Linked DNA regions of Homo sapiens: region 1 is linked to region 2. Evidence: fine-mapped expression QTL. Tissue or cell type: whole blood. Region 2 holds a variant in brackets; the other region holds the start of a gene. All regions are shown on one strand. Distances are between the middles of the regions.

The links. PIP is the estimated chance that this variant, and not a neighbour inherited with it, causes the effect.
Region 1: OMG starts here. The variant in region 2 is fine-mapped to the expression of OMG in whole blood (TOPMed, PIP above 0.99).

The regions. Positions count from the first base shown.
Region 1 is chr17:31,292,854-31,300,956 of GRCh38, reverse strand. It overlaps OMG (oligodendrocyte myelin glycoprotein), which reads left to right and starts at 3,718. Exons shown (of 2, transcript NM_002544.5): 1 at 3,718-3,801; 2 at 4,620-6,310. The coding sequence starts at 4,626. The coding sequence ends at 5,948. All of the region lies in intron 36 of NF1 (neurofibromin 1), which reads right to left.
Region 2 is chr17:31,177,082-31,185,189 of GRCh38, reverse strand. It overlaps NF1 (neurofibromin 1), which reads right to left. Exons shown (of 58, transcript NM_001042492.3): 6 at 3,701-3,768; 7 at 3,405-3,480; 8 at 2,525-2,682. Among named protein-coding and RNA genes, the nearest start is that of MIR4733HG, 86 kb to the right of the region's middle. The variant T/C (reference allele first, on the strand shown) is at 3,563.

The DNA of each region.
Region 1 (8,103 bases), 120 kb before region 2:
AAGACAGTTACAGGAGAAAACATTTAAATGGTCTTTAAACATATGTAAAGACATATACTCCCCCTCATAATTACAGAGATGCATTTAAAATTAGATGGAGATACTTGCCTATCAGATGGACAATAAATCCCAAAGTTCAACAACAAAGTATACAGTGAGGCTGTATAGAACTCGACACCATGATACACTGTTGGTGGGACTGCAAAATGGTATAATCAATGGAGAGGAATTTAGTAATGTCTGGAAAAATTCCAAATGCATTTACCCTTTTACCCAGCAATCCTACTTCTAGGAATCTTTTTCAAAGATTTACTGGCAAACATATAAAATTATTTAGGTACAAGGGTATTCACTGTGGCATTATTCGTAACAGCAAAAGTCTGAAAAACCCAGATGTCCACCAATAGGGGACTGGTTGAATAAGCCATGGTACATTCCCAAATGGAGTACTATGGATCAAACAGTGAATCATACAGATACCTATATACTGATATGGAGTGATACTCAAGATACAGTAAGAAAAGAAGAACAAGTTATCTAACAGTATGTATATATGTCACCTTTTATATTAGAAGGGGGGATAAGAACATACCATACATATGCTTACATTTTTTTTAGGTTTTCAAAAAGAAATGTTAATGATACAACGAAAAACTAATAAAAACAGTTACTAATAGCAGAAGGAAGGAAATAGGATGGAAAAGACAGAGAAGCAAGATTTATCTGAATATACATTGTTATATATATAATTTTGACTTGTGATCCTGAAAAGCTGAAAACTGAAACAAAGTTTATATCAAGTTGGTGATATAAAAATACACAGAAAAGAATTATTTCACATTGCATTAGAACACAGAATTTACTATACACTTTTAGTAAAATAAAGCAAGCAGAGCTACAAACAAATTTTAAACTTTATTCGGTAGTCTATAATCTAATTGTAGCAATCAATACTGGTATTATTTTGAAATTATTGTGAGATGATGCAAATGAGCAATTATGTCAATGATATGAGGAATCACTTATAGAAAATATGGGGGACAGAAGAACAAATTAAATCTTCCCAAAGAGTCAAAGAGAAAACTCCAAGATGAGAGACATTTTAGGAAATAATTGACTGAGTTTTGGCAACAAGCCAGTGGCATAAAGAAAAAAAGGAGTAGGGAGGTGGGCAAAGAAACTGATTCATTTGGATTTTGACTTGGTAATTTCTATGTTGTTATTTCTTTCATGCTTTTAAAGTACTTTATTGAGTACTCTCAGTTGTATTCAGCAGGAAAATCAGTCTAAATAGCCAACCATATTACCAAAAATAAACAATATCTGACTCTCAAGCATAGCAAATGTTACCTATAATAATGGAAAACTGAAACCACTGATTAGCGTGGGATAGCTATTCCTTGGCAGATGCTTTGTGATACCTTTCACAATGTTGGGGTAATATATCCTAGGACACAAAAGAATACGTAAATTAATTTACTGCTTAATCTAGAATGTAAAAGTTGCCTAACTATCATTACTGACCTAGACAGCCTAATAGAAAATGTAATGAGTCTGAATAATATTTAAAATAAGTTGTAACACATACTTATGCCTCTAAAAAATATTTTTTTTGAGTAACAGTAATACAGTATTATTTTATTTCATGAGAATTTCTTTTATTTATTTATTTATTTTTATTATACTTTAAGTTTTAGGGTACATGTGCACAACGTGCAGGTTAGTTACATATGTATACATGTGCCATGCTGGTGTGCTGCACCCAGTGTAAGAGATTGTTAGAATTCAAATATATTGAAATGATCTCCCTTTTTCTTTTTGAGAATTTTACAATAATCTTTGAATAATATGAAGCAATTTGGTATGTCCCAAACTTGAAATGAGAAACATTGCCACTACTATTGCACTGGAATTTTCTATTATATACAACAGAAACTAAACTTGATACAGCCTAAACCCAAATTCATTTGAATCCATTAATGAAGTAACATGTCTTTTCTTTCAAACAAAAGTACTGTTAAGTGTAATGAAAATGCATAACTCTACTTCTACACTGACTTAATGAGGTTTCCTAAAATTAAGAGATTTAAGTGGTCGGTAAATTGACCCTCAGTCACATCTTTAGAAGTGCAGCAGTGTATATATGAGCTTAAATAGAACTCTAAATGTCAATGCATTCCCTATTTCCACAATATTGCTGAATGTAGTATTTTTAACACATTATTTTAAGCACTATGATTGATGGCTGGTTTCCTAAATCCACAGTAAGAATCCAATTGAGAGTTCAACTGAACCCTCAAAGTAAAGTGGCAATAAAGCACCCAATCAACAATAAACTTCTATGTTGCGGACTCTTAAAATGCAGATACTTTTCGAGGAACATTAGTTTTATACAAAAGGTGGCTCCTAGAGTATAGTTTCTCTTGTAAGAAAATAAACTTCAAATTTTAATACAACAAATTCTATTTGTGGTATAATCTAAATAATGCTAATATAATTTAGAGAAAAACAAACGATTTAGTAACAAGGCATAAAGAGACTTTCCTTACACATAACATGCTAAATATTACTCGTTTTTAAATGGTGCCACTTGGTAACGAAAATACCGTAACTTTATTTGCTTTCTTTAAACTTGCCATTCTGGAAATCAGATTTGTGTTTTAACAGATTTACACAAGCAGTCCACTGAAGAGTGGAGCAAAATTTATCATAAATCTGATCTCACTTTATAAAACTCATGATGAAAAATTTTCCTTTTATATCATTTCATGTAATTTTAAAACTATAAACTACTTTCCCAGAAAGATGAAATGTGCAACACTCTGAAATCACCTAAATTGATACTGCTATTCTTAAAACATAAAATCAAATAAATGGTCATTCATACAGCACCAAAAATGTCTTTGGAAAAAACAATACTCATATCCACTTACCACCCAAGGTTGCATAAAGAAAAAAAACTTTAACTCCAAATATATAAAATAAAACATGTTTATTTTACATAGGAACTGATAATCTGAAGTATAAGATGCTAATTTCCAAATGTATCCTGGCTTGTGTGTAGCCTTGGTCAAATGATCATTGTATCAGAAAGATAAAGAAAAAATAATCGTATTTCAGTACTTCTATACATCCTAAAAGGGAAGACGGAACACTTAAGTGGTTGATAAATTTGAAAAGCTGATTAAACATAATAATCACCATGTTGGGGGAAGACATAAAAGTCATAAAACAGATTTTTTATAATATTAAAAAAGTGACATGAAAATTATACAATTTTAGAAAGGAATATAAAAAGGCAGGAGTTAAAAAATAGTGGGACTAATATCATAGAAAACTATCCATGAGGAAGGTCAAATTTATTTTCAACATGTAAAAAGGATAAAGAGTAGAGGTATTTTAAAAATTCACAGATTCTTAATGAGGCAAATGTTAAAATATGGAACCCAATCTCAGACAAATACATAGAAAGGAGTAAGGGCCAACTCTCATGCATAAGGTATCCCATCCTATAGCAAATCAGATATATAGGTACGCTTGATGCCACAAATTTTTTAAAAAATTGTCCATTTTGTTGCGTGTGCACCTCTTGCCATAAATTTGAGTCAGCACCAGCGACAGCTCTGCAGTCCTCCTATGTGGTACTGATCAGGTGGTTGCAGAGCTTCAGCTCACAGCAACACAATGCAGCTGAGCAGGCAAGCACAGCCCACAGCCAGAAACAGTTCCGACTCTACAGAACAAGACGACCTTTAAGTTTCCCAGAGAAAATGAGATGCTGATGTTGAAGACGACACCACGGTAAGATGTTATTTAAATCAGTAAAAGGCTGACTTTGGAATCTTTTTCCTTTTTCTTTTAAGAAAAAGTCAACGTTAGGATTAAATATATATTCAATAGCAAGTGCATGCACCAGAAATTTGCTGCAGTGTCAGTTGAGGGATATTTTTTATACATTCAGTCACTCTGTAAATATACATATTGTTTTCCTTTAAAATGGGCACTGAAATATACAGAAAAAAATCACTTTATAAAATGTGAGGTTTATAGGTACTGTGTTGGTCTGGATTTTTCAAGTGCTTTTTACAAAGATATATTTATCCTAAAAACATACAGATAAAATTTCGAAGAACTGCTTTAATATCTAAATAAAATCTACCCTATATACACACATTGAATTACATTACTGCAGAGATTAAAAAAAAAAGACACGACAGCCATTTTTTCTCATCTGAGTAAGAAAGCATATCATCAAAAATAGTAATAGCCTACAACTGCAACTATTTATTTGCAAAGAATGCTATTTTATCATATTAAGGCTCTAGAAAGATAAATAAGAAAGAATATGGTTAGAAAAGGGGGGAGGGAGAGAGAAAATAAAGGAGAAAATGCAGGAGAGAGTAGGGAGAGAGTCTCTCTCTACCACATAGCCCAATTGAAGGATTAAGCATTTGGACTATAAATGAAGGGGAGCTTTGTTAGTTTAATCACTGGAACAATTATAAAAGGACTCGACAACAACGAGGTTTATTGAAAATTTTGCCTAATGCTAACTGACCCATGCAGATGCCTAAACTGTATTTGCATATTAAAAGAAGGGTGTATCTGTTTGTTTCTAGGCTTTGATGGAATATCAGATATTGAAAATGTCTCTCTGCCTGTTCATCCTTCTGTTTCTCACACCTGGTATTTTATGCATTTGTCCTCTCCAATGTATATGCACAGAGAGGCACAGGCATGTGGACTGTTCAGGCAGAAACTTGTCTACATTACCATCTGGACTGCAAGAGAATATTATACATTTAAACCTGTCTTATAACCACTTTACTGATCTGCATAACCAGTTAACCCAATATACCAATCTGAGGACCCTGGACATTTCAAACAACAGGCTTGAAAGCCTGCCTGCTCACTTACCTCGGTCTCTGTGGAACATGTCTGCTGCTAACAACAACATTAAACTTCTTGACAAATCTGATACTGCTTATCAGTGGAATCTTAAATATCTGGATGTTTCTAAGAACATGCTGGAAAAGGTTGTCCTCATTAAAAATACACTAAGAAGTCTCGAGGTTCTCAACCTCAGTAGTAACAAACTTTGGACAGTTCCAACCAACATGCCCTCCAAACTACATATCGTGGACCTGTCTAATAATTCTTTGACACAAATTCTTCCAGGTACATTAATAAACCTGACAAATCTCACACATCTTTACCTGCACAACAATAAGTTCACATTCATTCCAGACCAATCTTTTGACCAACTCTTTCAGTTGCAAGAGATAACCCTTTACAATAACAGGTGGTCATGTGACCACAAACAAAACATTACTTACTTACTGAAGTGGATGATGGAAACAAAAGCCCATGTGATAGGGACTCCATGTTCTACCCAAATATCATCTTTAAAGGAACATAACATGTATCCCACACCTTCTGGATTTACCTCAAGCTTATTCACTGTAAGTGGGATGCAGACAGTGGACACCATTAACTCTCTGAGTGTGGTAACTCAACCCAAAGTGACCAAAATACCCAAACAATATCGAACAAAGGAAACAACGTTTGGTGCCACTCTAAGCAAAGACACCACCTTTACTAGCACTGATAAGGCTTTTGTGCCCTATCCAGAAGATACATCCACAGAGACTATCAATTCACATGAAGCAGCAGCTGCAACTCTAACTATTCATCTCCAAGATGGAATGGTCACAAACACAAGCCTCACTAGCTCAACAAAATCATCCCCAACACCCATGACCCTAAGTATCACTAGTGGCATGCCAAATAATTTCTCTGAAATGCCTCAACAAAGCACAACCCTTAACTTATGGAGGGAAGAGACAACCACAAATGTAAAGACTCCATTACCTTCTGTGGCAAATGCTTGGAAAGTAAATGCTTCATTTCTCTTATTGCTCAATGTTGTGGTCATGCTGGCTGTCTGAGGGTCTGCATTTTCTGAAACTAATGAAAGCACTCCTCCCTGATGTACAGTTGGGAAAATATGTCCATATCTAACCAGTGATTCGAGCTATATTTAAGTATTCAAGAAAGCCAGTCTTAACATTTCTAACTCTGATGTAAATGAAGTAACTTGTCTTAAATAAAAGAAATGCACAATGTCTTGGTACTTGCTGCTATTTTACTGTCTTAATTAAGTAAACTAATGAGTTTCTTTTATAAAAAAAATGAAATGTTTTAAGGCTTCAATTTATTGCACAAAATATAAAGCATCTAAACTTTAATATGTATTTTATGTATGTTTACACTGTCAAACATCTGGAAAATAAAAGGTCTATGCTCATAACTGTGTCATTTGGCTTTCCAGTCATACCAACTTTAGCAGAATCAAAATGACCTCACCATTTTTGTTCTAGGGTACCTTGGTAAAATCTTTAAGGTAAATAAAATGGCGGTAGTATCCAAGGATATTTTACTGAAGTAAAATCGTAGCTGCCATCCCATGAATGGTTATGCTACAACATTATTTTACAGACAAGCCATAATTGTTTTAAATCTAAATGATGTCCTGCTTCTGAGGAACTCTTGGCTACTTGACAGATTATATAATGGACAAAAGCTCTTCAAAAAGCTAGAAGACACTAGGCTTTGCATTTTAATAAGAAAAGTTTAACGGTTGTGTTTTTTGCATGTAAGAAAAGTGTTAAAAACATAATGAAAAAATTTAAAAACATGTAAAGAAGCAGTTTTAGTGCAGATTTAACACACCATTAATGGAGAATTTAAATATTTACAAAATTAAAATCCTACTACATGAAGGAGAAGAAAATTTATCTTTTACAAATCAGAAATCAGAATTACCTAAATTAAAAATAAGATTAGCTTAAGAATAAAATCATTGGGTCTGACGAACTTGGGCAGTACTGAGGAAGTGAGGAAGGAGAGAGGGAAAGGGAAAAGGGCATTTGGTACTACAACCAGGTGGTGAACCCAGTAAAACAGACTGAGGACTAAGGCTAGGCATGGGACAGAGATCTTGACACTCCAAATCAAACCACACTGGAACTCCAACTAGAAGAAAATCACTGAGAAATTCTCTACAAATATAAAAGTTAGCCAACTTATGAATTAGTGACAAACATAAGAAACAGCCACAAGGCAGCAAAAGAAGTCCTGAAACAGGATTGATTAAAATGCAAGACAGCATAACTGAGATGGGTGAGACACAAATGTGGTATTTAATTTGTGAGACGTAAGGCAGAATCTCATTTCAAGCATTTCTAGAGGTGGGAAAAGATAGAGAAAGGAATTTTTATGTTCCTTCGTAAAAACTTTTAAAAATTCAGATAGCCTCCTTTGCTGGTTTAGGAACATTTCTATTGAGAGAGAGAAAAGTAACAACACTCTAATGTGTTCTTTTTTTTGCTTTTTAAGGACCAGGATTATGGAAAAATTACCATTAAGCTTCAACAAAACAGTCATCTTTCATGCTGTCTAGTACAGTGGCTCTCGAACATTTTCTGCCTTAGCAAACCTGATTGGCTCACTGTGTCAGGGAATCTCACCATGAAGAAACAGGATTATTTGAAAAAGTCCCCTAAATGATTTTAAAATGCATTACCTCTCTATATACGGAAGCTATCTCCACTCCCTCCCAAACACTGATTAGTACCTTCACCATCCATGATAGGGACTAATTGCTTAGATAATCCCTACTCTACCACATACTTGTGTCTTATTTAAAAAAACATATACACCGACTTTCACAGAAAGTAGGTTTCTTTTTTTTTTTTTTTTTTTTTTTTTTTTTTTTTGAGACGAAGTCTCGCTCTTATCCCCCAGGCTGGAGTGCAATGGCGTGATCTCGGCTGACTGCAATCTCCCCCTCCCAGGTTCAAGCAATTCTCTCACCTCAGCCTCCCAAGTAGCTGGGATTACAGGCGCCTGCCACCACGCTCGACTAATTTTTGTATTTTCAGTAGAGACGGGGCTTCATCATGTTGGCCAGGCTGGTCTCAAACTCCTGACCTCAGGTGATTCGCCTGCTTTGGCCTCCCAAAGTGCTAGGATTACAGGCATGAGCCACCACGCCTGCCCTGAAAGTAGGTATCTTAGAGGTAACTGTCTTTTCCTCTGAGG
Region 2 (8,108 bases):
GGGGTGGCTTCTGAGGAGAATCAACATTATCTTGCCTGGCAACTGCCTCAGGGGAGGCCATTCCTGTTGCCTCAGGCAGCGCAGGGTTTATCTCTTCAGACAAAAGTGGAAAGGCTGATGGCAGCATGGCTCAGGGAGGGGATGTTGCCACTACTGGGGATGGGGAAGCTGTTTCTTCTGGCAAAAAAGGTTCATCAGAGTTTACAAACTCAGAGTCCCCAGCTTCATCAGGGTCCTCCCACACATGCCCTTTCCAAGTTGCAGGGTCCCATTCTTTTCCAATCAATGCCCACACTTTAACAGTAGACACCTGGTTAGGCTGTACATGCACCTTTTGTTGCAGGTCAGCCACTTGCATGATAAGAGTTTGTGTTTGTTTTTTCACAATTTCAGCTCTTTTTCTACAGGAGATAAGGGTCTCACTCAGGTCAATCTTAGCAGATTTGAGGCTCAGTATCTGCTTCTGAAGACAGGAGACAGAATCCCTGAGCTCATCATTTTCTATTTTATTTTTTTATTTTTTTTTTTTATTTTTTTTTTTTGAGACGGAGTCTCGCTGTCGCCCAGGCTGGAGTGCAGTGGCGCAATCTCGGCTCACTGCAGGCTCCGCCCCCTGGGGTTCACGCCATTCTCCTGCCTCAGCCTCCGGAGTAGCTGGGACTACAGGCGCCCGCCACCTCGCCCGGCTAATTTTTTGTATTTTTAGTAGAGACAGGGTTTCACCGTGTTAGCCAGGATGGTCTCGATCTCCTGACCTCGTGATCCGCCCGCCTCGGCCTCCCAAAGTGCTGGGATTACAGGCGTGAGCCACCGCGCCCGGCCCATCATTTTCTTTCACCACTTTGTCCACTGAATTTAGGAGCAACCAACCAGCTTCATTATGTTCCTTGGTTCTCCATATATGGTCAAAGGTATTATTATGTATAGGGTCACTAAACTCCTTGCCTCTCATTAGCGGTGAATCAGGAGTGTCAAATGCATTTATTTTGCAAACTCTCTAAACAGTTCACAGCAACGACTATCAGTGTTCTCCACAATATTAGAAGTAGAGTCCTTAATATTTTAGGGTCTAATCATATTAAGCAGCAAACTCCAGAAACCCCCAAACAAACTAAGAAACTCCATCCTTAATACTCCGTTCCTCTAGAACCACACTCCTTGTACCAAAATCTCTATTAGGGTTCTCTAGAGGGACAGAAGTAATAGAATATTTATATAAAGGGGATATTAACTATTAACTAGCACGATCACAAGGTCCCACAATAGGCCGTCTGCAGGCTAAGAGGCAAGAAGAGCCAGTCCAAGTTCCAAAACTAAAGAACTTGGAGTCTGATGTTCGAGGGCAGGAAGCATCCAACACAGGAGAAAGATGTAGGCTGGGAGGCTAGGCCCGTCTCTCTTTTCACATTTTTCTGCCTGCTTATACTCCAGCCATGCTGGCAGCTGATTAGATGGTGCACCACCCAGATTAAGGGTGGGTCTGCCTTTCCCAGCCCACTGACTCAAATGTTAATCTCCTTTGGCAACAACTTCACAGATACACCCAGGATCAATACTTTGTATCCTTCAATCCAATCAAGTTGACACTCAGTATTTATCATCAAACCTACTATTTTGAAGGGCTCCAAAACAATCTACCATGAAAAATGGTGTCCTCATAATGGAAAAGTTGAGATATACACCTAAGTGGAGTAACACGCAATCACAGACTCTCAAGGATTACCTGGTTCATTTATTTACCCTTTAATGTATAAATTCCCGGTCCAATACTTCTACAAAGTAATAAATCATTCAGCTGATTCTGAACATCTCCATCTACAGGCAAACCATGAAGGAAACCATCTCATGTTCAGCCAGCTAAGAGTATTTCTCCAAAAGCAGCAAAAAATGAAAAAAAAAATATTTGCAAAACAAACTGCATATTGAAATTTCAGTAAAACCCTAGGATTAATACTCAGTTCTTTTTTTTTTCAATCACCTAGGTGATATTTAAAAAAATTTTAAGAGCCTCCTAGAATTACCAGTTGTCATGGTGCCAATTTCACTATAGATGGTATATGCGAGAGCCTTACCTTCCTGGCAAAATTCTTTGAAAACTGTTCTAAAATACTTAAAATGAGTTACTAGATAATTTCAGTAGCACTATATGGACACATACCCTAAGTACATGCAAATAACACACTATAAAAGTGATGAACTCAAGTAGGGCAATCCTTGTAGTGAATATTAGAGAAACTACGTTTAATAATAACAGAGGTATCGTTTAGTCTTCTCAGACAAAAGAATGAAACTAAGGGATTATTTTAAATCTTTGTTCATTGCCTGGTATTATTTTCCCTCTGCCAAATAAAATTATGTATGAGTATGTCTCTTCTAAGTCCATCAAACAAAGAAACCTAAAATGATCATTTAAATGGTTCCCTGAAATACTTTGCTTAAATAATAAGCCTAAAGTAATACACACCTTGAGTAAAATAAACTGCTTCACATCTAGATATAATGGAAATAATTTTGCCCTCCTTACCTTATTCATGTTGTTTTCATCAACCACGTCTTTGGATATATCCTGGATTATTTCTGGACACAAGATAAGGAGAATGATTTGTAGTGGCCAAACTGCTGCTTTACGTTTGGTGCTTTCAGCAAAACCATCCACCAAGTCAAATAGCTTTTCTGCACATTCTGCATGAAAAATATATTAAATGACATTATTAGATAGGAACAAAATCCCTGGCATTAAAGTAAAAGCTGACACTATGTAAAAACCCAAGGGCAACATTTTTAAAAGATAAACATGGAACTTCATTTAAGCAACTACACAAATGCATTCTGGTAAGTAGACAAGCAATGTAATACTGTCTATGTGTTAGAAGAGCTATCTTGATCTATCCTGGAAAAGCTCACATTTTAGAATGGATGATCATGTATTCAGTCTCACTGTGAAGGGCCTTATGCAAAGTGTGATGTACCCAAGCAACAAAGACTGAACAGCTTCCCAAAAAGAATTACCAAAGTTCTCCAGGAGTCTGTATTCTCTGCCTTGCAGTTGTGTCTTACATTATAGGTGAGAATATTACTACTTTATACACATCTCCCTAAATACAAAATAAAGCTTCAGAGCACATGCTTCTCTACAACAAAGAGCCAAACACCCCATCCTATCACAGCTCTAAAGATCTGACCTTCATTTCAAACTACTTTGTTTGCTCCAAGGAAAGGAAGAGGGTTGGGCCTAATTTAGAAATGTAAGAGAAAAACAGTATTTCCTATTTGACACCAGTTGACAATAGAAGATGTAAAAGCACCTTTATAACAAAAATAACTTGGAAAACGATGATAGGTTTTTATGTCACAAGTAGGCATTTAAAAGACAAAAAAAAAAAAAAAATCAATCGTATCCTTACCAGCCATATCAGTCTGTGGGATCTGGTACAGTTTTGTAAATTCATCTGGATAATTTTCTACCCAGTTCCAAAATGCCTATAAATAAAGAACCACATGTCTTTACAGTGATTTTTTGTAATACAGTAAATAAAATGTCACAAACTTCTAACTTCCTTCA[T/C]AATAATATTACAATGTATTCTTCCTGAAAATGAATGTGAAACTATCACTCAAGTCATAACTTTTTGATTCAGGATGCTAACAACAGCAAATTTTACATCAAAAACAAAATTTTAATACCAGAGAGGTTGTAACTTACCTTTTCCAGGCTATTTATAACTGCTAACTGCGCAACCTTCTTTAGGGCTTTAAATTTAAATGCTGTTTCTGGAAAAAACACAATTTTTAAAAATTAACTCTAGAATAAGTTAACACAAATACAACTCAGAGCAAAATAACTTTCCATTTACGTATTACTTTTGCTCCAATATTATCTGTAAGCAATGAAAGGTAAAGACACCTAACATAAACCCAAAACTCGATAGTTGTCTGCTAGGAAAGAAAAATTCCATAAACAGCAAATATGCCTTGGACATCAATGATTGTGAGCTTTTTCTTTTAATAACTTGCTTTTTCAAAAAAAAGTATAAAACACATACAGGATATTGGTTCCTCCTATCCATGAGCATGGAATTGTTTTCCATTTGTGTCCTCTCTTATTTCCTAGAGCAGTGGTTTGTAGTTCTCCTTGAAGAGGTCCTTCACATCCCTTGTAAGTTGGATTCCTAGGTATTTTATTCTCTTTGTAGCAGTTGTGAATGGGAGTTCACTCATGATTTGGCTCTCTGTTTGTCTGTTATTGGTGTATAGGAATGCTTGTGATTTTTGCACATTGATTTTGTATCCTGAGACTTTGCTGAAGTTGCTTATCAGCTTAAGGAGATTTTGGGCTGAGACGATGGGGTTTTCTAAACATACAACCATGTCATCTGCAAACAGAGGCAATTTGACTTTCTCTTTTCCTAACCGAATACCCTTTATTTCTTTCTCTTGCCTGATTGCCCTGGCCAGAACTTCCAATATTAGTTTGAATAGGAGTGGTGAGAGAGGGCATCCTTGTCTTGTGCCAGTTTTCAAAGGGAATCCTTCCAGTTTTTGCCCATTCAGTATGATATTGGCTGTGGGTTTGTCATAAATAGCTCTTATTATTTTGAGATATGTTTGATCAATCCCTAGTTTATTCAGAGTCTTTGGCATGAAGGGCTGTTGAATTTCATCAAAGGCCTTTTCTGTATCTATTGAGATAATCATGTGGTTTTTGTCATTGGTTCTGTTTACGTGATGGATTACTTTCATTGATTTGCATATGTTGAAACCAGCCTTGCATCCCAGGGATGAAGCCAACTTGATCATGGTGGACAAGCTTTTTGATGTGCTTGTTGGATTCAGTTTGCCATTATTTTATTGAGGATTTTTGCATCGATGTTCATCAGGGATATCAGCCTAAAATTTTCTCTTGTTGTTGTGTCTCTGCCAGGTTTTGGTATGACCATGATGCTGGCCTCATAAAATGAGTTAGGGAGGATTCACTCTTTTTCTATTGTTTGAAATAGTTTCAGAAGGAATGGTACCAGCTCCTCCTCTAGCTGAATCTGGCTGTGAATCCATCTGGTCCTGGACTTTTTTTGGTTGGTAGGCTATTAATTATTGCCTCAATTTCAGAACTTGTTATTGGTCTATTCAGGGATTCGACTTCTTCCTGGTTTAGTCTTGGGAGGGTGTATGTGTCCAGGAATTTATCCATTACTGCTAGATTTTCTAGTTTATTTGCACAGAGGTGTTTATAGTATTCTCTGATGGTAGTTTGTATTTCTGTGGGATCGGTGGTGATATCCCTTTTATCATTTTTTATTGCGTCTATTTGATTCTCCTCTCTTTCTTCTTTATGAGTCTGGCTAGTGGTCTATTTATTTTGTTGATCTTTTCAAAAAACCAGCTCCTGGATTCATTGATTTTTTTTTTTTTTTAAACAGAGTCTTGCTCTGTCGCCCAGGTTGGAGTGCAGTTGCACGATCCTGGCTCACTGCAAGCTCTGCCTCCCGGGTGCACGCCATTCTCCTGCCTCAGGCTCCCGAGTAGCTGGGACTACAGGTGCCTGCCACCATGCCCGGCTAATTTTTTTGTATTTTTAGTAGAGATGGGGTTTCACTGAGGCCAAGGCGGCGGATCACGAGGTCAGGAGACTCATTGATTTTTTGAAAGGTTTTTCGTGTCTCTATCTCCTTCAGTTCTGCTCTGATCTTAGTTATTTCTTGTCCTCTGCTAGCTTTTGAATTTGTTTGCTCTTGCTTCTCTAGTTCTTTTAATTGTGATGTTAGGGTGTCAATTTTAGATCTTTCCTGCTTTATCTTGTGGGCATTTAGTGCTATAAATTTCCCTCTACACACTGCTATAAATGTATCCCAGAGGTTTTGGTACGTTGTGTATTTTTCTCATTGGTTTCAAAGAACATCTTTATTTCTGCCTTCATTTTGTTATCTTCCCAGTAGTCATTCAGGAGCAGGTTGTTCAGTTTCCATGTAGTTGTGTGGTTTAGAGTGAGTTCCTTAATCCTGAGTTCTAGTTTGATTGCACTGTGGTCTGAGAGTCTTTGTTATGATTTCCATTCTTTGGCATTTGCTGAGGAGTGTTGTATTCCAATTATGTGGTCAATTTTGGAATAAGTGCAATGTGGTGCTGAGAAGAATATACATTCTGTTGATTTGGGGTGGAGAGTTCTGCAGATGTCTATTAGGTCCACTTGGTGCAGGGCTGAGTTCAACTCCTGGATATCCTTGTTAACTTTCTGTCTCGTTGATCTGTCTAATGTTGACAGTGGGGTGTTAAAGTCTCCCATTATTATTGTGTGGGAGTCTAAGTCTCTTTGTAGGTCTCTAAGGACTTGCTTTATGAATCTGGGTGTTCCTGTATTGGGTGCATATATATTTAGGGTAGTTAGCTCTTGTTGTTGCACTGATCTCTTTACCATTATGTAATACCCTTCTTTGACTCTTTTGATCTTTTTTGTTGGTTTAAAGTCTGTTTTATCAGAGACTAGGATTGCAACCCTACTTTTTTTTGCTTTCCATTTGCTTGGTAAATCTTCCTCCAACCCTTTATTTTGAGCCTATGTGTAACTTTGCATGTGAGATGGGTCTCCTGAATACAGCACAGTGATGGGTCTTGACTCTTTATCCAATTTGCCAGTCTGTGTCTTTTAATTGGGGCATTTAGCCCGTTTACATTTAAGGTTAATAGTGTTATGTGTGAATTTGTTATTATGATGCTAGCTGGTTATTTAGCCCATTAGTTGATGCAGTTTCTTCACAGCATAGATGGTCTTTACAATTTGTTATGTTTTTGCAGTGGTTGGTACCAGTTGTTCCTTTCCATGCTTAGTGCTTCCTTCAGGAGCTCTTGTAAGGCAGGCCTGGTGGTGACAAAATCTCTCAGCATTTGCTTGTCTGTAAAGTATTTTATTTCTCCTTCGCTTATGAAGCTTAGTTTGCCTGGATATGAAATTCTGTGATGAAAATTCTTTTCTTTAAGAATGTTGAATATTGGCCCCCACTCTATTCTGGCTTGTAGGGTTTCTGCCTAGAGATCTGCTGTCAGTCTGATGGGCTTCCCTTTGTGGGTAACCCGACCTTTCTCTCTGGCTGCCCTTAATATTTTTTCCTTCATTTCAACCTTGGTGAATCTGACGATTATATGTCTTGGGGTTGCTCTTCTCGAGGATTATCTTTGTAGTGTTCTCTGTATTTCCTGAATTTGAATGTTGGCCTGCCTTGCTAGGTTGGGGAAGTTCTCCTGCTAATATCCTGAAGAGTGTTTTCCAACTTTTTCCATCCTCCCCATCACTTTCAGGTACACTAACCAAATGTAGATTTGGTCTTTTCACATAGTCCCATATTTCTTGGAGGCTTTGTTCATTTCTTTTCACTCTTTTTTCTCTAATCTTGTCTTCTCGCTTTATTTCATTGAGTTGATCTTCAATCTCTGATATCCTTTCTTCTGCTTGATTGATTTGGCTATTGATACTTGTGTATGCTTCACGAAGTTCTCATGCTGTATTTTTCAGCTCCATCAGGTCATTTATGTTCTTCTCTAAGATGGTTATTCTAGTCAGCAATTCGTCTAACCTTTTTTCCAGGTTCTTAGCTTCCTTGCATTGGGTTAGAACATGCTCTTTTAGCTTGGAGGAGTTTGTTATTACCCATCTTCTGAAGCCTACTTCTGTCAATTTGTCAAACTCATTCTTTGTCCAGTTTCGTTCCTTTGCTGGTAAGGAGTTGTGATCCTTTGGAGGAGAAGAGGCGTGCTCGTTTTTTTTTCAGCCTTTTTGCACTGGTTTCTTCCCATTTTTGTGGATTTATCTACCTTTGGTCTTTGATGTTGATGATGATACTATTCCTTTCTTAGTTTTCCTTCTAACAGGCAGAACCCTCTGCTGCAGGTCTGCTGGAGTTTGCTGGAGGTCCACTCCAGACCCTGTTTGCCAGAGTATCACCAGCAGAGGCTGCGGAACAACAAAGATTGCTGCGTGTTCCTACCTCTGGAAGCTTTGTCCCAGAGGGGCACCTGCCAGATGCCAGCCAGAGAGGACACAAACAAACGGAAAAACATTCCATGCTCATCGATAGGAAGAATCAATATCGTGAAAATGGCCGTACTGCCCAAAGCAATTT